7 linked regions of the Homo sapiens genome follow. Changing the gene in region 1 together with any one later gene gives a genetic interaction. Each region holds a gene or a part of one and is shown in the gene's direction. Other genes may lie near its edges.

Evidence for each region.
Region 2: changes in ARID1A (region 1) and HAPSTR1 together harm fitness more than expected from each alone (negative genetic interaction), as found in Homo sapiens cells (one large-scale study listed by BioGRID).
Region 3: changes in ARID1A (region 1) and SMARCC1 together harm fitness more than expected from each alone (negative genetic interaction), as found in Homo sapiens cells (one large-scale study listed by BioGRID).
Region 4: changes in ARID1A (region 1) and NGLY1 together harm fitness more than expected from each alone (negative genetic interaction), as found in Homo sapiens cells (one large-scale study listed by BioGRID).
Region 5: changes in ARID1A (region 1) and CACNA1G together harm fitness more than expected from each alone (negative genetic interaction), as found in Homo sapiens cells (one large-scale study listed by BioGRID).
Region 6: changes in ARID1A (region 1) and HES3 together harm fitness more than expected from each alone (negative genetic interaction), as found in Homo sapiens cells (one large-scale study listed by BioGRID).
Region 7: changes in ARID1A (region 1) and GOLM2 together harm fitness more than expected from each alone (negative genetic interaction), as found in Homo sapiens cells (one large-scale study listed by BioGRID).

What each region holds. Positions count from the first base shown.
Region 1 is NC_000001.11:26,762,015-26,765,514, forward strand, and holds part of ARID1A (AT-rich interactive domain-containing protein 1A), read left to right. Parts: intron 1-137; coding exon 138-305; intron 306-958; coding exon 959-1,271; intron 1,272-3,500. UniProt on the Homo sapiens protein: Involved in transcriptional activation and repression of select genes by chromatin remodeling (alteration of DNA-nucleosome topology).
Region 2 is NC_000016.10:9,101,644-9,105,143, forward strand, and holds part of HAPSTR1 (HUWE1-associated protein modifying stress responses 1), read left to right. Parts: intron 1-1,340; coding exon 1,341-1,616; exon of another isoform or gene 1,617-3,500. UniProt on the Homo sapiens protein: Acts as a central player within a network of stress response pathways promoting cellular adaptability. The E3 ligase HUWE1 assists HAPSTR1 in controlling stress signaling and in turn, HUWE1 feeds back to promote the degradation of HAPSTR1.
Region 3 is NC_000003.12:47,775,394-47,778,893, reverse strand, and holds part of SMARCC1 (SWI/SNF complex subunit SMARCC1), read left to right. Parts: intron 1-3,500. UniProt on the Homo sapiens protein: Involved in transcriptional activation and repression of select genes by chromatin remodeling (alteration of DNA-nucleosome topology).
Region 4 is NC_000003.12:25,718,444-25,721,443, reverse strand, and holds the end of NGLY1 (peptide-N(4)-(N-acetyl-beta-glucosaminyl)asparagine amidase), read left to right. Parts: intron 1-1,252; coding exon 1,253-1,430; intron 1,431-1,808; coding exon 1,809-1,984; 3' UTR 1,985-2,500; downstream 2,501-3,000. UniProt on the Homo sapiens protein: Specifically deglycosylates the denatured form of N-linked glycoproteins in the cytoplasm and assists their proteasome-mediated degradation. Cleaves the beta-aspartyl-glucosamine (GlcNAc) of the glycan and the amide side chain of Asn, converting Asn to Asp.
Region 5 is NC_000017.11:50,623,215-50,626,714, forward strand, and holds part of CACNA1G (voltage-dependent T-type calcium channel subunit alpha-1G), read left to right. Parts: intron 1-692; coding exon 693-861; intron 862-1,145; coding exon 1,146-1,315; intron 1,316-2,802; coding exon 2,803-3,500.
Region 6 is NC_000001.11:6,242,717-6,246,078, forward strand, and holds HES3 (transcription factor HES-3), read left to right. Parts: upstream 1-1,462; 5' UTR 1,463-1,525; intron 1,526-1,634; 5' UTR 1,635-1,649; coding exon 1,650-1,730; intron 1,731-1,831; coding exon 1,832-1,913; intron 1,914-2,393; coding exon 2,394-2,791; 3' UTR 2,792-2,862; downstream 2,863-3,362. UniProt on the Homo sapiens protein: Transcriptional repressor of genes that require a bHLH protein for their transcription.
Region 7 is NC_000015.10:44,333,719-44,337,218, forward strand, and holds part of GOLM2 (protein GOLM2), read left to right. Parts: intron 1-3,500.

The sequences.
Region 1 (3,500 bases):
ATATAGAAAATCAGATAGAGACTCCATGCAAGTGGCTGCTAAAGAAAATGTAGATGGTAAAGTCCCAGGATAAGGATGGAGAGCATTTGTTCGCATTGTATAAAGCTAATAACTATATGGATGCTACCCACAAATAGGTTATATGCAGAGGAACCCCCAGATGCCCCAGTACAGTTCCCCCCAGCCCGGCTCAGCCTTATCTCCGCGTCAGCCTTCCGGAGGACAGATACACACAGGCATGGGCTCCTACCAGCAGAACTCCATGGGGAGCTATGGTCCCCAGGGGGGTCAGTATGGCCCACAAGGTCAGTATACTACCCAGTTAGGAGTAGATACGGGTGAGAGGAGAAAACAGTTCCTTGTCTGATATGTTGCCATCTAGCTTGTAACCTTGTGAGAGAAGGGCTGTCCTTTGCCTTTAATCCACCCAGCCCAGGCCCTGAAGTAGGGCAAGGCAAGATTCCATTTGTCTCCACTTATTCTGTCACCATGAGAAAGTCTTTCAATTTCACTGAGCCTCTGTTTCATTTATAAAAATGGAGATTAGGTGTTTACTCCACCATTGAGCACAGACAATTTATACATGGTAGCTCTTGGTTATTATTTTTTTATTAATTATTTTTAGTGAATAAGTCATAATGGAATAGATCTTTGCTCAAAATTGCAGCCCTAGGCTGATCAAAAGTTGAGAATCTTACACAGAGCATGGAAATAGAAAGGAAGTTATCTTCTTCTGGAAGTTGAAATGCCTGTGTGGCAGCAAAGCCAGCCTTGCTCTGACCTGCCTTTACATGCTTCTGGAATCCCCCCCTTTTTCTCATGGCGATAAAGGCTACCATGAAGTTGATCTCTTTCCTAACCAAAATATTGAATGACATTGTTTGGTGTTCTAGAGTTGAGAGATATTAGTGAGTTGCTAGTGAGTGACTAACCAAGTCTTGTCTTCCTCCCCTCCCAGGTGGCTACCCCAGGCAGCCAAACTATAATGCCTTGCCCAATGCCAACTACCCCAGTGCAGGCATGGCTGGAGGCATAAACCCCATGGGTGCCGGAGGTCAAATGCATGGACAGCCTGGCATCCCACCTTATGGCACACTCCCTCCAGGGAGGATGAGTCACGCCTCCATGGGCAACCGGCCTTATGGCCCTAACATGGCCAATATGCCACCTCAGGTTGGGTCAGGGATGTGTCCCCCACCAGGGGGCATGAACCGGAAAACCCAAGAAACTGCTGTCGCCATGCATGTTGCTGCCAACTCTATCCAAAACAGGTAAGGCCTGGGAAGCAGAGAGGGTGTCAGTGCAAGAAAATGTATTATAGACCCACTCAGATTATTGAGATGCTTCTGGACCTAAACCAGGGGGGGAAAATGGGTGTGTGTGTATGAAGTGTTAATTCTTACATACCTTAGATGGGTCTGAAATTTCACGTGACTAAACATCATATGTAATGAGCTTTATAAAAGACAGGTTTTTGGCCGGGCGTGGCGGCTCATGCCTGTAATCCTAGCACTTTGGGAGGCCAAGGCGGGCAGATCATGAGGTCAGAAATCAAGACCAGCCTGATCAACATGGTGAAACCCCGTCTGTACTAAAAATACAAAAATTAGCTGGGTGTGGTGGCGCACGCCTGTAATCCCGGCTATCGGGAGGCTGAGGCAGGAGAATCACTTGAACCCAGGAGGAAGAGGTTGCAGTGAGCCAAGACTGCGCCACCACACTCCAGCCTGGGCGACAGAGCGAGACTGTCGAAAAAAGGGGTTTTGTGGGGTGTTTTATTTTGGGGTCTTTTGAGACAGGACCCTGCTCTGTTCCCCAGGCTGAATTGCAGTGGCATGACCACAGTTCACTGCAGCCTCGACCTCCCAGGCTCAAGTGATCCTCCCACCTCAGCCTTCTGAGTAGTTGGGACTACAGGCACACACCACCACACCCAGCTAATTTTTTTTATTTTTTATATTTATTTATTTATTTAGAGACTGTCTCACTCTGTTGCCCAAGCTGGAGTGTAATGGCACACTTTCAGCTCACTGCCACCTCTGCTTTCCAGGTTCAACCAATTGTCCTGCCTCAGCCTCCCAAGTAGCTGGTGTTACAGGCACCCGCCACCATGCCCTGCTAATTTTTATATTTTTAGACTGGGTTTCACCATGTTAGCCAGGCTGGTCTCAAAATCCTGACCTCCAGTGAGCTGCCTGCCTTGGCCTCTGAAAGTGCTGGGATTACAGGCATGATCCACCATGCCCGGCCTTTTTTTTTTTTTTTTAAATAGAGATGGGGTCTCAGTGTGTTGCCAGGGCTAAAGACTGCTTATTTTGATGTGCAAAATAAGTGTTCAGAGTAGGTGGTTTAACTTCTATCAGTCAACTTTTTGGTTTCCAAAAGGATTCTTAATGATACATATGTCTTGGATCTTTGGTGTTAGAAATAGCAAATGGTAAGCTTGTGGTTTGCCATTTCTCCTACTGTTTTATGTGGTCCTACGTGTTGACTCTGGTGCTAGAGTACAGAAGGCTCATGTGATTAGGTTTAACAACTTCTTTAGCCACTAAATCTTACTGAGTTGTTGTTGATGAACCAAGGTAGAATAGGGCGATTGACTATAAAGAGGTGGATTTGGTAGAACTTCAGAATGATGGAAGTGCAAAGTTTGCATTGGGCCCCTCAAGAAATAATGCAAAGCCACCTCTGGGTGCTATGCTGAGGGTTCCAGTCTGGTTGGGATTTAGCATGACAAAAAGTGGTACAGTTCAGCATTTCATCTATGCCTTTTGCCACAGACAGGGCCCTTAAATGGAAATACAACTTGACTTTGGAGGTGGCTTTGAGGAAGGCAGTACTTAAAGGACACAGCAGGGCTCTGCTTCAAAGAATTACACCCTTTGAAATTGAGCTATTGTGGCCGGGTGCGGTGGCTCACTCCTGTAATCCTAGCACTTTGGGAGGCTGAGGCAGGTGGATCACCTGAGGTCAGAAGTTCAAGACCAGCCTGCCCAGCATGGCAAAACCCCATCTCTACTAAAAATACAAAAAAATAGCCAGGCATGGTGGTGGGCGCCTGTAATCCCAGCTACTCACGAGGCTGAGGCAGAATGGCTTGAACCTGGGAGGCGGAGGTTGCAGTGAGCCGAGATCATGCCATTGCACTCCAGCCTGGGAGATGAGTGAAACTCCATCTCAAAAAAAAATTGGCCGGGCATGGTGGCTCACCCCTGTAATCCCAGCATTTTGGGAGGCTGAGGCAGGCGGATAACGAGGTCAGGACATCGAGACCATCCTGGCTAATACGGTGAAACCCTGTCTCTACTAATAAAGTACAAAAAATTAGCCGGGCGTGGTGGCAGGTGCCTGTAGTCCCAGCTACTTGGGAGGCTGAGGCAGGAGAATGGCGTGAACCCGGGAGGCGGAGCTTGCAGTGAGCTGAGATCGCGCCACTGCTCTCCAGCCTGGGCAACAGAGCGAGACTCCATCTCAAAAAAAAAAAAAATTGAACTATTGTT
Region 2 (3,500 bases), on another chromosome or scaffold:
AGTAGGCCTTATTATAAAGTTCTGGTTGTTGTGCTTCCCTCTTGCCATTTTCTTTAATAGTGCAAATTCAGCTTGGCATCCTCTGTGATGTCTGGATGATTTTTTTTTTTTTTTTCTGGAACATAGCTTTACATTGTTTGACTATTGCCCATCCTTTGAGAGTCTGCTGTAGATGTAGCAGACAAGAAATTAAAGCCGCCGGTTGCAGTGGCTCACGCCTGTAATCCCCAGCACTTTGGGAGGCTGAGGCAGGCGGATCACAAGGTCAGGAGTTGAAGACCAGCCTGACCAATATGGTGAAACCCGGTCTCTACTAAAAATAGAAAAATTAGCCAGGCATGGTGGCGTGCGCCTGTAATCCCAGCTACTCAGGAGGCTGAAGCAGGAGAACCCTGGAGGCGGAGGTTGCAGTGAGCTGAGATCGAGCCATCGCACTACAGCCTGGGCAACAGAGAGACTCCGTCTCAAAAAATAAAATAAAACGAAATAATCAAAGCCGGGAAAAGTAATAGAGAAATGTACACAGTATTGTTGCTTTTACGGAAAGTTCAAGGATAAAGTAACGATGTTGGTTAATGCCATTAAAGACATACTGGTGATGTTCTGCTGGCACAGCAGCTCAATTAAAACTAAATAATAGTCACTTAAATTTTCAAATTTTTTTTCAACTAAATGAAACCACTAAAAGGTAGAGATCATTTTACCAAAACCCAGGTGGAGTATATGCAGAGAATTTAGTCTAGGAGATCTGTTGGGAATGGTTGAGTTACAGGAAGCTGTTGAGAACTGGAAGCAAAATGAGTATACCCAGGGAAATGAATAAAGCTTTTTGTTTTCCACCATGCTATTTGGTTTTAGTGTTGAGCCATCAGTCAGAATTAATTTTTCCTTCTAAAACATTTGCTGCTGCCTTCAGCTTGTTCCTCATTCTTGGTGCTGAATCTGTCAGTAGGAATGTATCTCCACAATGACGTGGTAAATGCAGATGAGCGTGGCCTGAGGCATGTGCAATATTTAGACATCTGTTGAATGATGTGATGCAAGTTATTTTAGGTAATTTCATTAAAGATACCTAATCTCTCTGTTTCTGTTAAATTTTTTTTTTTAACAAGCCAAGCTCCAGGACTGTGATAAGTAAACACTGAATTTAGACCATTAAGATTAAATGTTACATATAACATTTTCATTATGACTGAAATCATTTCAGTTTATATTACTGATGGGCTCAGAGGCCACATCATGGTATTCACTTTGGTTAAATTGTAAAATGGTTTTCTTTAGAAGGGAATACGGGCTCTAATGGTCATGATACATGTTTTCTTTTTCTTTTTTTCTAACAGAAAGCGTGGATACCCATCAACGAAGTTTTGATATTGGAATTCAGATTGGCTATCAGCGACGCAATAAGGATGTGTTGGCTTGGGTTAAAAAACGCAGAAGAACTATTCGTCGAGAAGATTTGATCAGCTTCCTGTGTGGAAAAGTTCCTCCACCACGAAACTCTAGAGCTCCCCCAAGACTGACTGTAGTGTCCCCTAACCGAGCTACTTCAACGGAAACTAGCTCATCTGTAGAGACTGATTTGCAACCCTTCCGGGAAGCCATAGCTCTGCATGGTAAAGCCGTTTAAACATATTTCTTTGGAAAAATGGTTAAGAGGGTGCCTGTGGACCCATTTTTCACGGTTAGGTTTAGGTCCAGATATACTGTTTTTTGTCTTACAGTAAACAGCTTGCTCTAGAAATGTTTAATAGAATGTAAGCTAAGAACTTAATATGGGCGATTTCTGTCAGCTAACCTATCCTAGAAAATGTTTTTAGAAAGTTAGTTTGAGCTTATTGGTGTTAAAATGACATATCTTTCTGCAGTGTTGATTAGAATTTATCGCTTTACACTTATGTGTTGTACGTGTTTTTTTCCTCTTCTGAAGTCAAAGAGGAAGTTCTTGTGTCTTAAGAATTCTGTTATATTTCTAATGGTCCATGACAGGCAAGTAAGGTGGGAAATTGTTGGGTTAGTTCTCATGGGACCTGGGACCTCCCTTGACACCTTTCTTACTTGGTTTGCTGTAGATGGTGGGAGAGGATGGATGTAAGACTTGACCTTCTGCCTGTCGTCCCTCAGGTCCCTTGCACTTTAAGAGGCAGGACCAGCAGAGTGCAGCCAGTGGGCAGGTGGATCTCTATCTCCCCAGGCCAGACCTGTCATAAGAAGGCACTCTTGGCTAAGGGATTTTAGTATTGCTGGAGAAACCCGGGAAATGTAGTCAGTGATAAGTCTGTTGTTGCTTGTTGCTGTCTAATACAGACTTCCAAATAGAGCTGGGAGAGTTAACCTGTGTGACAGCATTGAATACTGCTGTAGGAAAAAAAGCAACAGAATAATAAGACTTGCTTGAAACCATGATGGAAAGATGGATCACGCAGATGGCTAAGCAGGTAGAAGTAATTAGGTCATGAATCCTTTTTTTCTTTTTTTTTTTTTTTTGGAGACGGAGTTTCGCTCTTGTGGCCCAGGCTGGAGTGCATTGGCGCGATATTGGCTCACCGCGACCTCTACCTCTGGGTTCAAGCGATTCTCCTGCCTCAGCCTCCCGAGTAGCTGGGATTACAGGCATGTGCCACCACGCCGGCTAATTTTTTAGAGACAGGGTTTCACCGTGTTGGTCAGGCTGGTCTCGAACTCCCAACCTCAGGTGATCCGCCCACCTTGGCCTCCCAAAGTGTTGGGATTACAGGTGTGAGCCACTGCGCCTGGCCATGAGTCTTGTTGAAAGTTAACATTTTTGGGCCATAGTACAGGTCATCTAAAACAAAGTAACCTGGTAAGGTACTAAGAAATAGTGGCATATAAAGAAACTTTATAGACGTTGAATCATTGAGACTTTATAATACCTGTAGAGATCTTGTTCTCTCTGGCAAACCGTAGTTCTTTCCTGAAACCCCAATGTTGTTTTTTCCCTTGATAGTGTTTAGGACAATTAAAAACAAAAACATGAATTGCAGGAAAGTTCAGGTTGTGTGGATGCAGTACTTTAAGACTGCACACTGTTCCTGACACAGTGGAATAGTTAGGCTGTCAGAACTTTGGAAGCTCAGGCAAAAATGGGATTGATCTGTTTATGCTGAATTAGAGAGTTTCACATCTTTCCCCCTAAAGTTTGGGAAAACAATTAACTAGAGGTGTACATAGTTTGTTAGATTAATTTTAGCGCATGGTAATATTTGATGCAGTTGTCTCTCCTTAAGTATTGTGATTTTCTTCCTTTATTAAGAGGGTTGTGGGTCATTCCATGCTTCTCTTAAGGTATCTTTTTACTCTGTTTTACTGTTATATTTTAGAAGATAGTTTTAAGAAACATAAAAACCATGCTTGTTATCTTAACGTAGTAGTAGTGTACATAATAGTAAAAAGGGCAAGCCAGCCCCCTCTGCCCTCGAAAAACTGTATTCTCCAACTCCCACTACATTTTCTCATATTGAATCTGTTCCACCTGTGAT
Region 3 (3,500 bases), on another chromosome or scaffold:
ACCTCAGCCTCCTGAGTACCTGGGACTACAGGCACGAACCACCACACCTGGTTAATTTTTTGTATTATCAGTAGAGGCAGGGTTTTGCAGTGTTGCCCAGGCTGGTCTCGAACTCCTGGGCTCTCTGCCTGCCTCAGCCTCCCAAAGTGCAGGGCTTACAAGTGTGAGCCACCACACTTGGCCCACACTGACTCTTACTTGAAATATTTTGAGACTAATAAATTTTTGTTTTCTTAAATAAAATATAATAGACTTTTTTTGATCAAAAGATTAATTGGGCCAGGTGCAGTGGCTTGCGTCCGTAATCCCAGCACTTGGGAATTCCAGGTGGGAGGTTCATTTGAGCCCAGGATTTGGAGACCAGCTTGGGCAACATGATGAGACCCTGTCTCAAAACAAAACAAAACAAAAAAATACATCAGTTGTGGTGGCATGCACGTGTAGTCCCAGCTACTTGGCTGAGGCAGGGTCCTTGGAGGATCACTTGAGCCTAGGAGGTCGAGGCTGCGGTGAACTGTGTTGGCACCATTGCACTCCAGCCTGGGCAACAGAGCGAGACCTTGTCTCAAAACAAAACGAAACAAAACAAAACAAAAAACAAAAACAAAAAAAAACCAGATTAATTGTTTATGACATAGAAATTAAAATTTCTTAATTAGGAGTCAGTGTTTTTTTTGTTTTTTGTTTTTTGTTTTTTTTTTTTGAGATGGAGTCTCGCTCTTCTGCCCAAGCTGGAGTGCAGTGGTGTGACCTCGGCCTCCCAAGTTGAAGTGATTCTTCTACCCCAGCCTCTTGAGTAGCTGGGATTACAGGCACCCGCCACCACGCTCTGCTAATTTTTGTTATTTTTAGTAGAGCTGGGGTTTCACCATGTTGGCCAGGCTGGGCTTGAACTCCTGACCTCAGGTGATCCGCCAGCCTCAGCCTCCCAAAGTACTGGGATTACAGGCATGAGCCACTGTGCCTGGCCTACATGCATTTTCATGTTTGGTAATTTGGTAGGATGATTTGGAAAAAAAATCTAATCAGAATTAAATATTTTATAGTTTATTAAAAATTGGACTGAGACTGGGGGCTGTGGCTCACACCTGTAATCCCAGCACCTTGGGAGACCGAGGCCGGTGGATCACCTGAGGTCAGGAGTTCGAGACCAGCCTGGCCAATGTGGTGAAACTTCTGCTCTACTAAAAATGCAAAAATTAGCCGGGTGTGGTGGCACATGACTGTAGTCCCAGCTACTCAGGAGACTGAGGCAGGAGAATCACTCAAACCTGGGAGGTGGAGGTTGTAGTGAGCTGAGATCGGGCCATTGCACTCCAGCCTAGGCTACAGAGCGAAAGTGTCTCAAAAAATAAATACATAAATAGAGACAGGGTCTTACTGTGTTGCCCAGACTGGTCTCAAATTTCTGGACTCAAAGTAGTCCTCTAACCTCGTCCTCCCAAAGTACTGGGATTACAGTCATGAGCCACTGCACCCGGCCTATATTCACTGTAGTTATTAAAAATATAGGCCGGGCATGGTGTCTCACGCCTGTAATCCCAGCACTTTGGGAGGCCAAGGCGGGCAGATCACCTGAGGTCGGGAGTTTGAGACCAGCCTGGCCAACATGGTGCAACCCCGTCTCTACCAAAAATACAAAAATTAGCCAGGCGTGGTGGCGTGCGCCTGTAATCCCAGCTACCCAGGAGGCTGAGGCAGGAGAATCGCTGGAACCCGGTGGGCAGAGGCTGCAAGTGAGCCGAGATTACGCCACTGCACTCCAGCCTAGGTGACAGAGCAAGACTCTCTCAAAAAAAAAAAAATAAATATTTACCTGAGGCCAGGTGTAGTGGCTCACGCCTATAATCCCAGCACTTTGGGAGACCGAGGCAGGCGGATCATCTGAGGTTGGGAGTTCGAGACCAGCCTGGCCAACATGGAGAAACCCCATCTCTACTAAAAATACAAAATTAGCCAGATGTGGTGACGCATGCCTGTAATCCCAGGTACTCGGTAGGCTAAGGGAGGAGAATTGCTTGAACCCGGGAGGCGGAGGTTGTGCTGAGCTGAGATCGCGCCATTTTACTTCAGCCTGGGCAACAAGATCAAAACTCGGTTTAAAAAAAAGAAAAAATATATATATATTTACATCTATATATTTACATATATGTTTACATATATATGTATATTTACCTGAAATGTTGATTTGGTTCCATCTGAACAGCCTTTTTCAAGGACATTGTCTTTTTCAGCTATAGAGTTTGGCATTGTTTAGTTAATCTGTAAAATACAGATTGTAGTTATTATTTTTGAGACAGTCTCACTGGGTCACCCAGGCTGGAGTGCGTGGCACGCTCTTGGCTTGCTGCAACCTCTGTCTCCTGGGTTCAAGCAATTTTCCTGCCTCAGCCTCCTGAGTAGCTGGAATTACAGGTGTGTGCCACTCTGCCTGGGTAGTTTTTGTATTTTTTTAGTAGAGATGGAGTTTGGCCATGTTGGCCAGGCTCGTCTCAAACTCCTGACCTCAAGTGGTCCACCCGCCGCGGCCTCCCAAAGTTCTGAGATTATGGGTGTGATCCTCCGTGCACAGCCGGTCATTATTTTTTTATGTTGCTTTACCGTGTACAAAAAAAGTGCAGTACATTATATGACTCCTTTAGGAAACCTGTGCTTATTAAAGATTATGAAGTTACCTTGCGGATAAGTACAATGTATTTTGTCAGTTTTGTAAGATACACTTGAAGTATTTTTTTTTTTCTCGTTTGAGACGGAGTCTCGCTTTGTCACCCAGGCTTGAGTGCAGTGGCGCACTTTCGGCTCACTGCAACCTCCGCCTCCCGGATTCAAGCCATTCTCCTGCCTCAGCCTCCCAAGCAGCTGGGATTATAGGCATGCACCACCATGCCTGGCTCATTTTTGTATTTTTAGTAGAGACGGGGTTTCACTATGTTGGCCAGGCTGGTCTTGAACTCCTGACCTCAAGTGATCTGTCCACCTTGCCCTCCTAAAGTGCTGGGATTACAGGCATGAGTCACTGCATCCGGCCAGAGTTTTAATTTTTAATTTTTGTGGGTACATAGCAGGTCTATTTCAAAGTTTATTTTATTTTATATTTTTTGAGAGTGAGTCTCGCTCTGTCACCCAGGCTGGAGTGCACCCAGGCTGGAGTGCGGTGGCACGATCGCGATCTGGGTTCGCTACAGCCTGCGCCTCCTGGGTTCAAGCGATTCTCCTCCCTCAGCCGCCTGAGTAGCTGGGACTACAGGCAAGTGCCACCATGCACGGCTAGTTTTTGTATTTTTAGTAGAGACGGGGTTTCACTGCTTTAGTCAGGTTGGTCTTGATCTCCTGACCTCGTGATTCGCCCGCCTCGGCCTCCCAAAGTGCTGGGATTCCAGGTGTGAGCCACCACCGCGCCTGGCCCTTGAATACCGTTTATTAAAAATTTACGGGGCTGGGCGCGGTGGCTCACACCTGTAATCCCAGCACTTTGGGAGGCCGAGGCAGGCGAATCACGA
Region 4 (3,000 bases), on another chromosome or scaffold:
GATTAGACTTAATGTAAGAACCAAGTACTTGCTGTACATTTCAGACCAGGCAGATAACATAAAGAGAGTGGGATTTTAAAACATTAATCTGATCAGAGCCAGGCACGGTAGCTCACACCTACAATCTCAGCAACTCAGGAGACTGAGGCAGGCGTTCAAGACCAGCCTGGGCAACATAGTGAGACCCTGCCTCTAAAAAATTTTTTTAAATTAGCCAGGCATGGTAGTTGGAGGCTGAGACAACAGGGTCATTTGAACCCAGGAGTTCAAGGCTTCAGTGAGCTATGATTGCACCACTGCATTCCAGCCTGGGTGACAGAGTGAGACCCTGTGTCTAAAATAATACACTTGAAAATAAAAATATGGTCAGAGCAATTGGAATTGTACAACAGTAGTCAATTGCATTAAGATAAGTGTAAAGTTCAAACTGTAGTAGTAAGTGCAGTATTAGTGAGGAAGGGGTTTCTTTCCAAGATTTCAAACAAATACATAGAATTTTGTGGGAATTCAGACGTAAGGGATGAACGACTGAAGCGTCAGAGTCTTAAGAGTTTGAGCATGGTTGAATAGAGTGACCTGTGAAAGACCAAGGCTGTGGATGTCAGTTTTCATGGCAATGTTTTGAGGAGTGTAGATAAAAGTATGAGAGGGGATGAGCTGGAAGCAGCCAGTAGGCTTAGATGCCTTAAATAGTATACATTTAATGTGCTAAAGGGCGTTGATGAAGGAACAGGGAGCATGCTATTTAGAGAAGTGAGCATGGATATCACCTTTTAAACCATTAGTTAGCAGTGGCTCAGGTATTTTCTCGATTTAGAGACTATAGCATACCATGTCACACTAGGAAAGCGTATATGAAAATCCAGACTTATAAAAATTAAAGAGTAGTTGCATTTAAAAGGATTCTTCATTTTCAGCAGGATTAGTCATAAAACTCATTTTAAAGAGTTGAACTTCTTAATATAAAAGAAGATGATTTACCAAAATTTGGTTAGAATGCAGTCCTTTAGAATTGCACTTTTTGGGGACATCTGCATTCAAATAATACCTGTCTTCTAGGGTAAAAGATGCCATGGGAAAAATTGCCAAAAAAAATGTTAGCAGTAAGAACCTTTTCAACAGGGAAAAGTTAGTTTTTAAATAACCACTTGTACATACTACCCTGTGACAGTAATATTCTTCACTAAGTTTGTTTTCTATACTATTTCATTTTTTCTGACAGTTCCTTTCTCCCCATCCCTACTCCTTATAGGTATATTTGGCCCGAAAGGAAGGATCATCTTTTGCTTATATTTCCTGGAAGTTTGAGTGTGGGTCAGTTGGCCTAAAAGTAGATAGCATTTCTATTAGAACAAGTAGTCAAACTTTTCAGACTGGAACAGTAGAATGGAAATTGCGATCTGATACAGCACAAGTAGAACTGACAGGCGGTAAGCATTTGCCTGGAGAATTAATCACGAAATATATATTTACCACTCTGAAGACTAATTGTACTTATTTGAGATGTAGCTCTTTTTCGTACCTAAGAGTTATTAATACTATTTCAGTAAAAAAAAAAAAATTTAATAAACCCTGTGTGATCCCATTGTAACAGAAAGGCTGATGTTTTCTGTTGTGAAATACAAATGCAAGGAAAAAATCATTTCTTTGTTTCAAAGGATGCATTTCTTCCATAAAGAATAATTTGTATTTATTTTTAAGGGTTTATTTTAACTTATACATCAGCCTATATAAAATACATTTCAAAATGATCTGTGCTCTTTAAATTACCAAAAGCAAAATGTTAATTTTTTTTTTCCCTCTAACAGATAACAGTCTTCACTCCTATGCTGATTTTTCTGGTGCCACTGAAGTTATTTTGGAAGCAGAATTAAGCAGAGGAGATGGTGATGTCGCTTGGCAACACACCCAGCTGTTTAGACAAAGCTTAAATGACCATGAAGAAAATTGTTTGGAGATAATTATAAAATTCAGTGACCTTTGAGAACCTGAACATTATAGAAAAGCTGGCAATAATCAAGGACTTACTGAAGTAGTCTGTTGGTTCAGTGCATGCTTAGTTGGCAGTTACCACCCTGTGCTAGCATATTTCTTTTGCTAGCTATCCATCATGTAACCCTCATGAAAATTATCTTTATACGTGGACTATAATAAAATATTGAATTAAAACCTTTCTTCCATATGTGACTATAATTTGGAGTAAAGTCTTGTTGACTCAATATGGGATTTTAATCTAAAACTGTAAGTATGGTTTTAAAAGTTAAATAATGATATTCATGATTAAATGCTATTCATGATTATGATAAAATCTTGGGCTTATGATAGTAATTTGACATTTTCTGATCAGCCATTCATTTCTTCAGAAGTGGTTAAATTAGAGTCTCCTAATATTTTTAATTAATGTGAAAGTACAGTAGCTCATAAATTATATAATGCATGAAAATTTATATGATTATAAATATTCAGGCATTTAAGAAATAAAATGAAGTATTTTGCCTTACATCTTTTTAGTGGTTATTTTGGCTAAATAAAAATCTTTTTTCTAAACATTGAAAAATACTTGAATAGATATGAGTTATGAAAACATTTAACATTGACAACATAAACTAGGATACATTTTAAATTCCATAATACGTGGACATTTTGAAAATGCCTTACCTTTGAGTTATATTTTTATCTACCTCATTGAATAAAATATTCTTGATTTTGAAACTATGTAACTATATTATACAGTATCTATATGTTGTATCAAGAGGTTTTGTGTATATTCTGTATAACCTCTCAAATTTAGTGAACATTTATTAAGCATTTATGTACAAAGCATTGTGATAGCACTGTGGAGGAAGCAGTGGTGAAAAAGACATAGCCCCAAGCCTCCAGATTCCTTTGTGATATTCTGCAAAGTGAGTTCTCAACTCTTTATACAAGAAAAAGACACACTCAAGAGTCTCACCCTGTGCCACTCAATAGAACGTGACATGTATTATAAAATATATAATA
Region 5 (3,500 bases), on another chromosome or scaffold:
CCTCTGGAGTAGCTGGGATTACAGGTGCCACGCCACCATATCCAGCTAATTTTTTTTTTTTTTTTTTTTTTTTTTTTTTTAGAAATGGGGTTTTGCCATGTTGCCCAGGCTGGTCTCAAACTCCTGAGCTCAAGCGATCTGCCCACCTTGGCCTCCCAAAGTGCTGGGATTACAGGCATGAGCCACCAGCCACTGTGCCTGGCCTGCTGTTAGCTTTTAATCCTCCCCTGAGCTGCTCTGGGTCAGGGCCCCAGCCCATCCCTGTGGACACCGGGACTCCCTTCAGAGCCTCTAAATGGGGCCTTTAGAATCAGCTTGTGAGCCACCTGCAGGGCTGGGGGCTGGGGGCTGCTCTCCCTTCTCTGGATACCTCCCCGCCCCTCCACCACCACAGTGGGAGCTTAAAGGTGATACAATGTGTGCAGTTTTGCAGGGGGTGGGGGGCAGGGCCTGCAGACTCTCCCGGCTGCCCAGACCCCCTCCTACCTGCTTCCTCCCCGCGTGTGGAGGGCTCATCCATGTGTCTGCCCCTCTCCCCAGCCATGCTCATGCCCATCTCTACCTTGTCCTGGGAGGGCACGGGGGTGAGGGCTGGGCGGGGGGCGCTGCTGCTTTCTGTTGTCAGCGCTGCCTCAGTTACCAAACCCACGCACACCCTCTTCCTCCACCTCCCTCCCCTGTTCCTTTTGCAGATGCAGCCCCACCCCACGGAGCTGCCAGGACCAGACTTACTGACTGTGCGGAAGTCTGGGGTCAGCCGAACGCACTCTCTGCCCAATGACAGCTACATGTGTCGGCATGGGAGCACTGCCGAGGGGCCCCTGGGACACAGGGGCTGGGGGCTCCCCAAAGCTCAGTCAGGTACCAGGGCTAGAGCAGGCCAATTTGGCTCACACAGGGAGATTCCATCCTGGCCTAAGCCAGTCCTGATCTGAGGGGATGGGGAACTGAGGCAGCCAAAGAGGTATCTCTGACCTCAGGGGAGCCTCCAGCCTGGGGGAATGGCTTTGAGTCCAGGGGGTAAGGGTAGAGGCCCTGATGAGGGGGAGAGAGTGGAAGGGAGGGCTCAGGTGAGAACCTGCTCCCCTGAACCCTCCAGCTCCATTCTCTCCCCCCACCCCTCCCCCGCTTCCCTCCCTCCACAGGCTCCGTCTTGTCCGTTCACTCCCAGCCAGCAGATACCAGCTACATCCTGCAGCTTCCCAAAGATGCACCTCATCTGCTCCAGCCCCACAGCGCCCCAACCTGGGGCACCATCCCCAAACTGCCCCCACCAGGACGCTCCCCTTTGGCTCAGAGGCCACTCAGGCGCCAGGTGAGCAGATGTGGAAAGGCAGGCACAGGCCTGGGGGCTGGACCCTCTGCTGCTGGTGATGACCTGTGTTGACACTTTCATTCTTCCAGCAAATATTTATTGTGTGCCAGTGATGTGCCAGGCTCAGTTGCAGATACCAGGGACACAGTACTGGGCAAAGCAGAAGTGGTCTGTGCCTTCTTGAAATTTGCACCCAGTTCCTTGTTCCACTGAGGAGGCCTGGAGACCAGAAGGGGTAGTGCTTGCCCAGGGTCATGCCTATCTGGTCGGAGGTAGAACCCCAGTCTCTGGTCTTTCCTTCCTCACCAACCAGAGCTGCCTCCCAATTCTTCTCCCCACTTTGGACTGAGCTATGGGGCACAAGGCAGGTTTTAAGTGTCTTCACTTTTGGCCAAGCCTAGGGCCCACCTTCCAGAGCCCAGATTCTTTTTTTTTTTTTTTTTTTTGAGTTTCGCTCTTGTTGCCCAGGCTGGAGTGCAATGGCACAATCTTGGCTCCCCGCAACCTCCGCCTCCTGGGTTCAAGTGATTCTCCTGCATCAGCCTCCCGAGTAGCTGGGATTACAGACATGCGCCACCATGCCTGGATAATTTTGTATTTTTAGTAGAGATGGGGTTTCTCCATGTTGGTCAGGCTGAGCTCGAGCTCCCAACCTCAGATGATCTGGCCGCCTCGGCCACCCAAAGTGCCGGGATTACAGGCGTGAGCCACCGCGCCCGGCCCCAGAGCCCACCTGTGATAAGGCCACAGCCCATGCCATGTGTGTGTCCTGAGGCATGAGCGTGGACACATGAGAATCTCAATCCCACATGCTTGGGGGAGCAGGCACAGTCCTTATTCATTCTGCAAATAGTCACTAAGCAGCCTCTGTGTGCCAGGCACTGGCGACACAGCCCCTGCCCCCTGAAGCTCACAGTCTAATAGTGGAGACATGCCTGCCATCAGATCATTGCAGCCTCAGCTCACAGCTGCCAGACACCTATGTGTGGAGGGCAGCAGGGACACAGAAGGGGAAGGGGTCGGTTTTACTTGGGGACAGAGACTGTCACACACTGTGTCACAGAGAACCTGAGTCCGTAAAATCGAGGGATTCTTGCCAATCAGGAAGGGTATTCAGAGCCAAAGGGGAAGTCTAGGCAGAGGCGGGGAGGCGTGAAGGAGCCAGCTCAGTGAGCAGAGATGGCCTGGCTTCTCTCATATCCCAGGAGGCAGGGGCTGCAGAGAGAGCGATTCTTGCAGGCTTAGGGGAGACCAGAGCATGGGGGAGGGAAGACAGGGTTTAGTGGGGAGAGAGGAGGCATGGTGGACAACAGAGGTCAGGCTGCAATGACCCCTATCTACTAGTAAGAGCGGCTACCAGGACCTCTGCTTAGGATAGTCCTGCTGTGCCTGGTGGTGGTGGGCAGGGGGCACAGCCAGCTTGACAGGAGGGCTAGTCCATGCTGGAGAGGAGACTGCTGGGCTGAGCCCTCCCCCACCCCATATAGGCAGCAATAAGGACTGACTCCTTGGACGTTCAGGGTCTGGGCAGCCGGGAAGACCTGCTGGCAGAGGTGAGTGGGCCCTCCCCGCCCCTGGCCCGGGCCTACTCTTTCTGGGGCCAGTCAAGTACCCAGGCACAGCAGCACTCCCGCAGCCACAGCAAGATCTCCAAGCACATGACCCCGCCAGCCCCTTGCCCAGGCCCAGAACCCAACTGGGGCAAGGGCCCTCCAGAGACCAGAAGCAGCTTAGAGTTGGACACGGAGCTGAGCTGGATTTCAGGAGACCTCCTGCCCCCTGGCGGCCAGGAGGAGCCCCCATCCCCACGGGACCTGAAGAAGTGCTACAGCGTGGAGGCCCAGAGCTGCCAGCGCCGGCCTACGTCCTGGCTGGATGAGCAGAGGAGACACTCTATCGCCGTCAGCTGCCTGGACAGCGGCTCCCAACCCCACCTGGGCACAGACCCCTCTAACCTTGGGGGCCAGCCTCTTGGGGGGCCTGGGAGCCGGCCCAAGAAAAAACTCAGCCCGCCTAGTATCACCATAGACCCCCCCGAGAGCCAAGGTCCTCGGACCCCGCCCAGCCCTGGTATCTGCCTCCGGAGGAGGGCTCCGTCCAGCGACTCCAAGGATCCCTTGGCCTCTGGCCCCCCTGACAGCATGGCTGCCTCGCCCTCCCCAAAGAAAGATGTGCTGAGTCTCTC
Region 6 (3,362 bases), about 21 Mb from region 1:
AAGGGGGAGGGCGTGGCGCGATTCTCCACGCTGCTTGGCGCCTGGGAACGCCGCTATCCTGGGAAGGGTAGGCGGGGGCGGGCTGGGGGGAGATGCCCTGGCTTGATAGAGCTGGGGGGCGCACCCCACCCTGAGTCCCTACACAGAAGCCGGTTTGTTCATTCCTCTGCCACAGGGCTCAGCTGCAGAATTTTTGCGACTTCCCTGTCACCCTCAGAAGCAATGGGGGCTGCATTGTTCAGAATATAATTTTACAAGCCCCAAAAACTAAAGCCATGAGGGCCCATGGGAGGTGTCTAGGTTTGAACCCAGGGACTTCCTGGAGGTCAGCCTTCCTGTCCATCACAGCAGCTACAGTTCAGCCTCCTGGAGTCCAACCAGGGGGATGGCCCCAGAGCCTTGCTGTAGGCCTAGCCCATCCTGGGGCAAGTGCTCCAGGCGCCTCCTCCACTGGGTCCGCCGTAGTCTGAATCATAGATTGGGGTGCGGGCCCTGGATCTCTCGAAGTGTGGCCTGGAGCTCTTCCCAGAATGTCAGTGGTCTCCTGCCACCACCACCTGTGCGTGGAGCTGAGAGCAGGCTCATGGGAGTAGACTTCTAGTGCTTCTCCATGGGGACAGGGTCTACCACCAAAGCCACCCAGCCTGGAAGCCCAGGGCTGTAAGGAAGGGAGAGGCAGCCGTGTTCACCCCACCTGCCTCCTGTGGGAAGTCCGCGTTGGATCCTAGCAGTGTCAGAGAACACAGGACCCAGGCTGCACCCTCACCAGGACCCCTCCCAATCCCAAGGCCCCAGCAAGGATGAGGCTGGCTGTGGCCCCGCGGGTGGGCTGCATGCTTTAATGGGACACAGGCTGCTGCATGGCCCCCGCGGGCTCAGCTTGTGCCTGGCTTTGAGCAGCCACAGGCAGAAAATTGCTGCATTGTCCCGACATTAGGGCAACTAATGCGGCGTTGCGGGTATAACCAGAGCATGAAGTGCATAAAGAGGCGTCGCCTTGGCATCTTCATCAGTCCCGAGGGAGCCCAGAGCCCTGTCATAGTCAGTGAGGCAGCCTGTGGCCAGCTGGCCCATGTACCTCCCCAGTAGGTGACCCCTGGAATGCTTGCACTCCAGGGTATCAAGGACTTGGCAAGTGGGACTGGAGAACTTACGGGGATTGGGACAGGATGGGCATGGAGGGGGTGGGCATGGCAGGGGTCCTCAGACTGGGGAAGTGGTGGAGGCCAGAGAGATAAGGAAAAGACAGATAAAGGGGAGGGGGGGGTCCCTCGGGAGACAGGGGGGGTCCTGAAGGTGAGAGGAAGCCTAGGCTATGGGAGGGGGCTGAGGGAAGGAGGTGGGGAGCTTCCCAGTGCGTCCTCCCTCGGTCCCCTCCTCCTCAAGGTTTCTAGAGTCCAGAGGGCCTCATTGACATGTAAACGAGGGTCCCTATAAAGGCGGCGCTGCCTCGCACTGGTGCATGGACTGCAACATGGGCACGGAGCCTGCTGCCCGGGGCAGCCTCCCCGGCAACTTCCGAAAGGTCTGGGGTCTTGAGGGACTAGGGGCAGGCACCCTTCCCCGGGAGGTGTGGGGGGGTGCCGAGGGCAGGAGGGTGGCAGTCCTGCACTCTAAAGGCTGTTCATCTGCAGATTTCCAAGCCGCTGATGGAGAAAAAGCGCCGGGCACGCATCAATGTGTCACTGGAGCAGCTCAAGTCGCTGCTGGAGAAACACTACTCGCACCAGGTGAGACTCAGGCGGGGTGGGGGTGGGTGGGTGATACGATCCCAACCTCCCTCTCTCCACCTCGGGAGGCCGGTCTAATAGACCTTTCCATGGTCGGGTAGATCCGGAAGCGCAAATTGGAGAAGGCCGACATCCTGGAGTTGAGCGTGAAGTACATGAGAAGCCTTCAGAACTCCTTGCAAGGTATAGGGGAGGGCTGGAGGGAGGAGGGGGAGGCTTGTGGGATCAGAGCCAGGGATGCACAAGGCCAAATAAAGAGGGATACCTCAAGGACCGCTTGACCCCGGGCTTTTGAGACCAGCCTGGGCAACATGGCAAGACAGCAAATATAAAGAGGACAACTCGGAGGCAGGTGCAGTTGGTGAGGAGGGGGCCCCAGCTCGCTAGGGGGCGAGGGAGGAGCAGTAAAGCCCGGGCTGGCTGTGCGATTGCAATCTGGGTGGTAGGTCTGGACCCCGGGGGAGACGTTCGGGTCGTCTGACCTCCGCCCTCCTCTTCCCTTCCTCAACACGCTTCCTCCCTCCTTTCCCCTCCACCTCCACTCCCCTCTCCTCCCTCCCTTCCTCCCCTCCCCTCCCTCCCCCTTCCCCTCCTCTCCCTCCCCCTCCCCTTCCCCTTCCCTCTCTTCCCCTCCCTGTTTCTCGCGTCCGCTCTTCCCCACAGGGCTCTGGCCTGTGCCCAGGGGAGCCGAGCAACCGTCGGGCTTCCGCAGCTGCCTGCCCGGCGTGAGCCAGCTCCTTCGGCGCGGAGATGAGGTCGGCAGCGGCCTGCGCTGCCCCCTGGTGCCCGAGAGCGCCGCCGGCAGCACCATGGACAGCGCCGGGTTGGGCCAGGAGGCGCCCGCGCTGTTCCGCCCTTGCACCCCTGCCGTCTGGGCTCCTGCTCCGGCCGCCGGCGGCCCGCGGTCCCCACCACCCCTGCTCCTCCTCCCCGAAAGTCTCCCTGGCTCGTCCGCCAGCGTCCCCCCGCCGCAGCCAGCGTCGAGTCGCTGCGCCGAGAGTCCCGGGCTGGGCCTGCGCGTGTGGCGGCCCTGGGGAAGCCCCGGGGATGACCTGAACTGAAGGCGCTCCCTATTTGGTCTCGCGACACAGGGACTATTTTCAGCACGCCCACAGTGACTGCCAGGACCCCCCAGTCGTCCGTTCTGGTCGTGGGGCGGGGGTGGCTTGGAGAGGGCCGCGCACCCCGCAAGCGCAGGGAAATACCCCCAGCCCTGCCGGACTGGGTCTGCGCGTCTGGGCATAATCCACCCCCACTCTAGCTCCACCTACACACGCCGGACCGCTCGCTCTCCGCCCATCCTCCGGAGGGGCTGGGAGGGGGTGTCCTGGGCTGCGCCCCTTTCCCAGGGACCCCTGGCGGGCAACCCGCCCGCCCCCACCCCCGCCCGGTTGCCGCGCAGCGGTGGGAATGTCGCAGTTGGCAACAGCGCAGAGCTGACCCCTCGCAGCGAGGAGAATCGCTGCCCCGCCCCGGACCATTCAGCGGACCGCGGGCGCCCGGTTCCCACCGGCACAAAGCGCGCCTGGCCCCGCCCCGCCGGCAAGGGGCCCCCAGCCTCCCCCAACCCGGGATCCTCTTGACTTCCAAGGACCTCCTTCGCAAGCGGTGCTGCCCACCGGGCTGGCGCAT
Region 7 (3,500 bases), on another chromosome or scaffold:
TTCTCTTTTTTTTTTTGAGATGGCGTCTCACTCTGTCACCCAGGCTGGAGTGCAGTGGCGTGATCTCAGCTCACTGCAAGTTCCGCCTCCCAGGTTCACACATTCTCCTGCCTCAGCCTTCCGAGTAGCTGGGACTACAGGCACCTGCCACCACGCCCAGCTAATTTTTTGTATTTTTAGTAGAGACGGGGTTTCACCATGTTAGCCAGGATGGTCTCGATCTCCCGACCTCGTGATCTGCCCGCCTCAGCCTCCCAAAGTGCTGGGATTACAGGCGTGAGGCACCACGCCCGGCCGCTCTCTTCTATTCTCTTAAGGAATACAGATGAGAGCTTTCCCTTTTTTTCCAAGCCAGTGTAATTCTCTTTCTGTTCTTCTATACTAGGCTATTTTTATGTTATTAATTAACTAATGCTTCTCCAATTCTTCCTTGCCATTATCCTACCCTAAATGGAACAAGGCATGGCAGGAATTGAGGTGCCCAGAGAACTTCTCCTTTCTGGGTAGCACATCAGCCCTTACCCTCTAGATCAGCTACCTAATTCTACTCCCCACCCTTCATTTCCTGTACTTTAACTACTATGGCAAGTTGGTTCTGTGCAATTTGAGTTTTCATAGAGACAAATCCAATGTTAGCTATATGAAATAAGCATAAATTGTATTCAGGGATTTATCTTTTTGTTTTATTAATTTTAAAATTAATTAACCAGCCACATGTCTATCATAGAAATGACTCTGGAAAAGAAGTCAGCAAACTATAGCCCGCAGGCTGAATTCAGCTTGCTGCCTGCTTTCGTACTGTTTAGAGGCCAAAAGTGGTTTTCACATTTTCAAATGGTTGAAAAAAATCAAGAAAAAATTATCTTAGTACTTGGGAAAATTATAAGAAATTTATATTTTGGTGTTCATACATAAAATTTTATTGAGACACAGCCATGCTTATTTGTTTACTGCGTTCATGCTGTAAGGGCAGAGAAACTCTCATAGCCCAGAGAAGACTAAGGAGACTAAGGACTTAAATGCAGTGTAGTAGCTGGGGGCGGTGGCTCACACCTGTAATCCCACCATTTTGGGAGGCCAAGGTGGGTGGATCATGAGGTCAGGAGTTCGAGACCAACCTGGCCAACATGGTGAAACCCCATCTCTACTAAAAATACAAAAAGTTATCCGGGCATGGTGGCTGGCACCTGTAATCCCGGCTACTCAGGAGGCTGAGGCAGGAGAATCCTTTGAACTGGGGATATGGGGGTTGCAGTGAGCCAGTACTGCACCACTGCACTCCAGCCTGACAGCAGAACGAGACTACATCTCAAAAATTAAAAAATTAAAAAATTAAAATAAATGCAGTGTAGTATCCTGAATTGGATCCTGAAACAGAAAAAGGACTTAGTGGAAAAACTGGTGAAATCTAAGTAAGTCTGGAGTTTAGGTAGTAATAATATACTGATTTTCTTTTTTAGTTTTGCAAATGTATCATGGTAATTATGGATGGTAGGTTAACAGGATTTTAACATTAGGGAAAACTGAGTAAGGGGTGATTACTTTTCTGTAAATCTAGAATTATTTCAGAATAAGAAGTTTATTTTAAAAACAATCAGGAGGCCCACTAACCAAATCACAAACATTACATCTAGAAAAGCATCTTATTTTATTAATATTAATATTGTCCATTCATAGAAAGGTACTGTCAATAGTACATTAAAGATACAACATCTTTGTTAACTATTTTCAATGGAAAAGTATTTTTGAACAGTAGCTTGTTGACTTTTAATTTTGTTCAATATTTTTCTTATCCATATCTGGAAAAGAGTGAAGAGTACTATAGCAATAGCCTTATGAGATAGCATTATAGTGAAGATGCACAGACATGCAAGCTGGCTGCTCAGGTTGTACCTCATGGATTTTCTCACCCTTGGTGTTTATATTGACATGTTCAAAAATTTCAGTTTATCATTTCATTCATCAATGATTAAACTATCAGAATTGATTATAGCTTACCAACTTACAGGAAATGTGGGATTTGGAGTCAGAAAGACTGTGGTTAGAATTCCTTCTTCACAATTCTCTAGTTTTGTGACTTTGGACAAACTGCTTTTTTTTTTTTTTTTTTTTCTGAGACAGAGTCTTGCTTTGTCACCCAGGCTGGAGTACAGTGGCCCGATCTCGGCTCACTGCAACCTCTGCCTCCCGGGTTCAAGCGATTCTCCTGCCTCAGCCTTCTGAGTAGCTGGGATTACAAGCATGCGCCACCATGCCCGACTAATTTTTGTATTTTTAGTAGAGACGGGGTTTCGCCATGTTGGTCCGGCTGATTTTGAACTCCTGACTTCATGATCCACCCGCCTCTGCCTCCCAAAGTGGTGGGATTACAGGCATGAACCACCGTGCCTGGCCCAAACTACTTAACTTTTTCTATTTAATGGAGTGTTGCACTGTTGCCCAGGCTGGAGTGCAGTGGTGCCATCTTGGCTCACTGCAAGCTCCGCCTCCCGGGTTTACGCCATTCTCCTGCCTCAGGCTCCCAAGTAACTAGGACTACAGGCACCCGCCACCACACCCGGCTAATTTTTTGTATTTTTTAGTAGAGTCGGGGTTTTACTGTGTTAGCCAGGATGGTCTCTATCTCCTGACCTCGTGATCCGCCCACCTCGGCCTCCCGAAGTGCTGGGATTACAGGCATGAGCCGCCGTGCCTGGCCCAAACTGCTTAAGTTTTTAATACCTCAGTTTTGTTTTTCTCAAAACTATTAATTTTATTTCTACTAGAGGACAGCTATGAAGGCAATTTGGAAACTATGAGACACGATGCAAATATTTATTGTTGATTTTACTTGCCAGGACACTGGAATACCTACACCTAATTGTCAGAGTACTCTTTCTCCTTTATTGTGACACACTCTTAAGATTTGGCTGTTGTGGCCGGGTACGGTGGCTCACGCCTGTAATCCCAGCACTTTGGGAGGCCGAGGTTGGCAGATGACGAGGTCAGGAGATCGAGACCATCCTGGCTAACACAGTGAAACCCCGTCTCTACTAAAAATACAAAAAATTAGCCGGGTGTGGTGGTGGGCACCTGTAGTCCCAGTTACTCGGGAGGCTAAGGCAGGAGAATGGCATGAACCTGGGAGGCGGAGCTTGGAGTGAGCCGAGATCGCGCCACTGCACTCCAGCCTGGGCGACAAAGCAAGACTCCGTCTCAGAAATAAATAATAATAAAAAAAAATATTTGGCTCTTGTTTTTCTAGATTCCATATAGATTTTTCGTACTATTTTTATAACATTACTAAGAATTATATTTCATACTGCATTAGAGTTTACAAAGCATTTATAGATGCATTAAATGTTGACTAGAGGAACCTGTATATGGCATCCCAAGCTTGTGTACTTGAATCCTTGCTGCTCCCAATTTTCCATGGAGGCAAACTTAATACTGGTCCACCAAGAGAATTGAGTTAGGCCTAACCATGTACCTGAAGATTCACATTTCCAAGAAGATGCTAG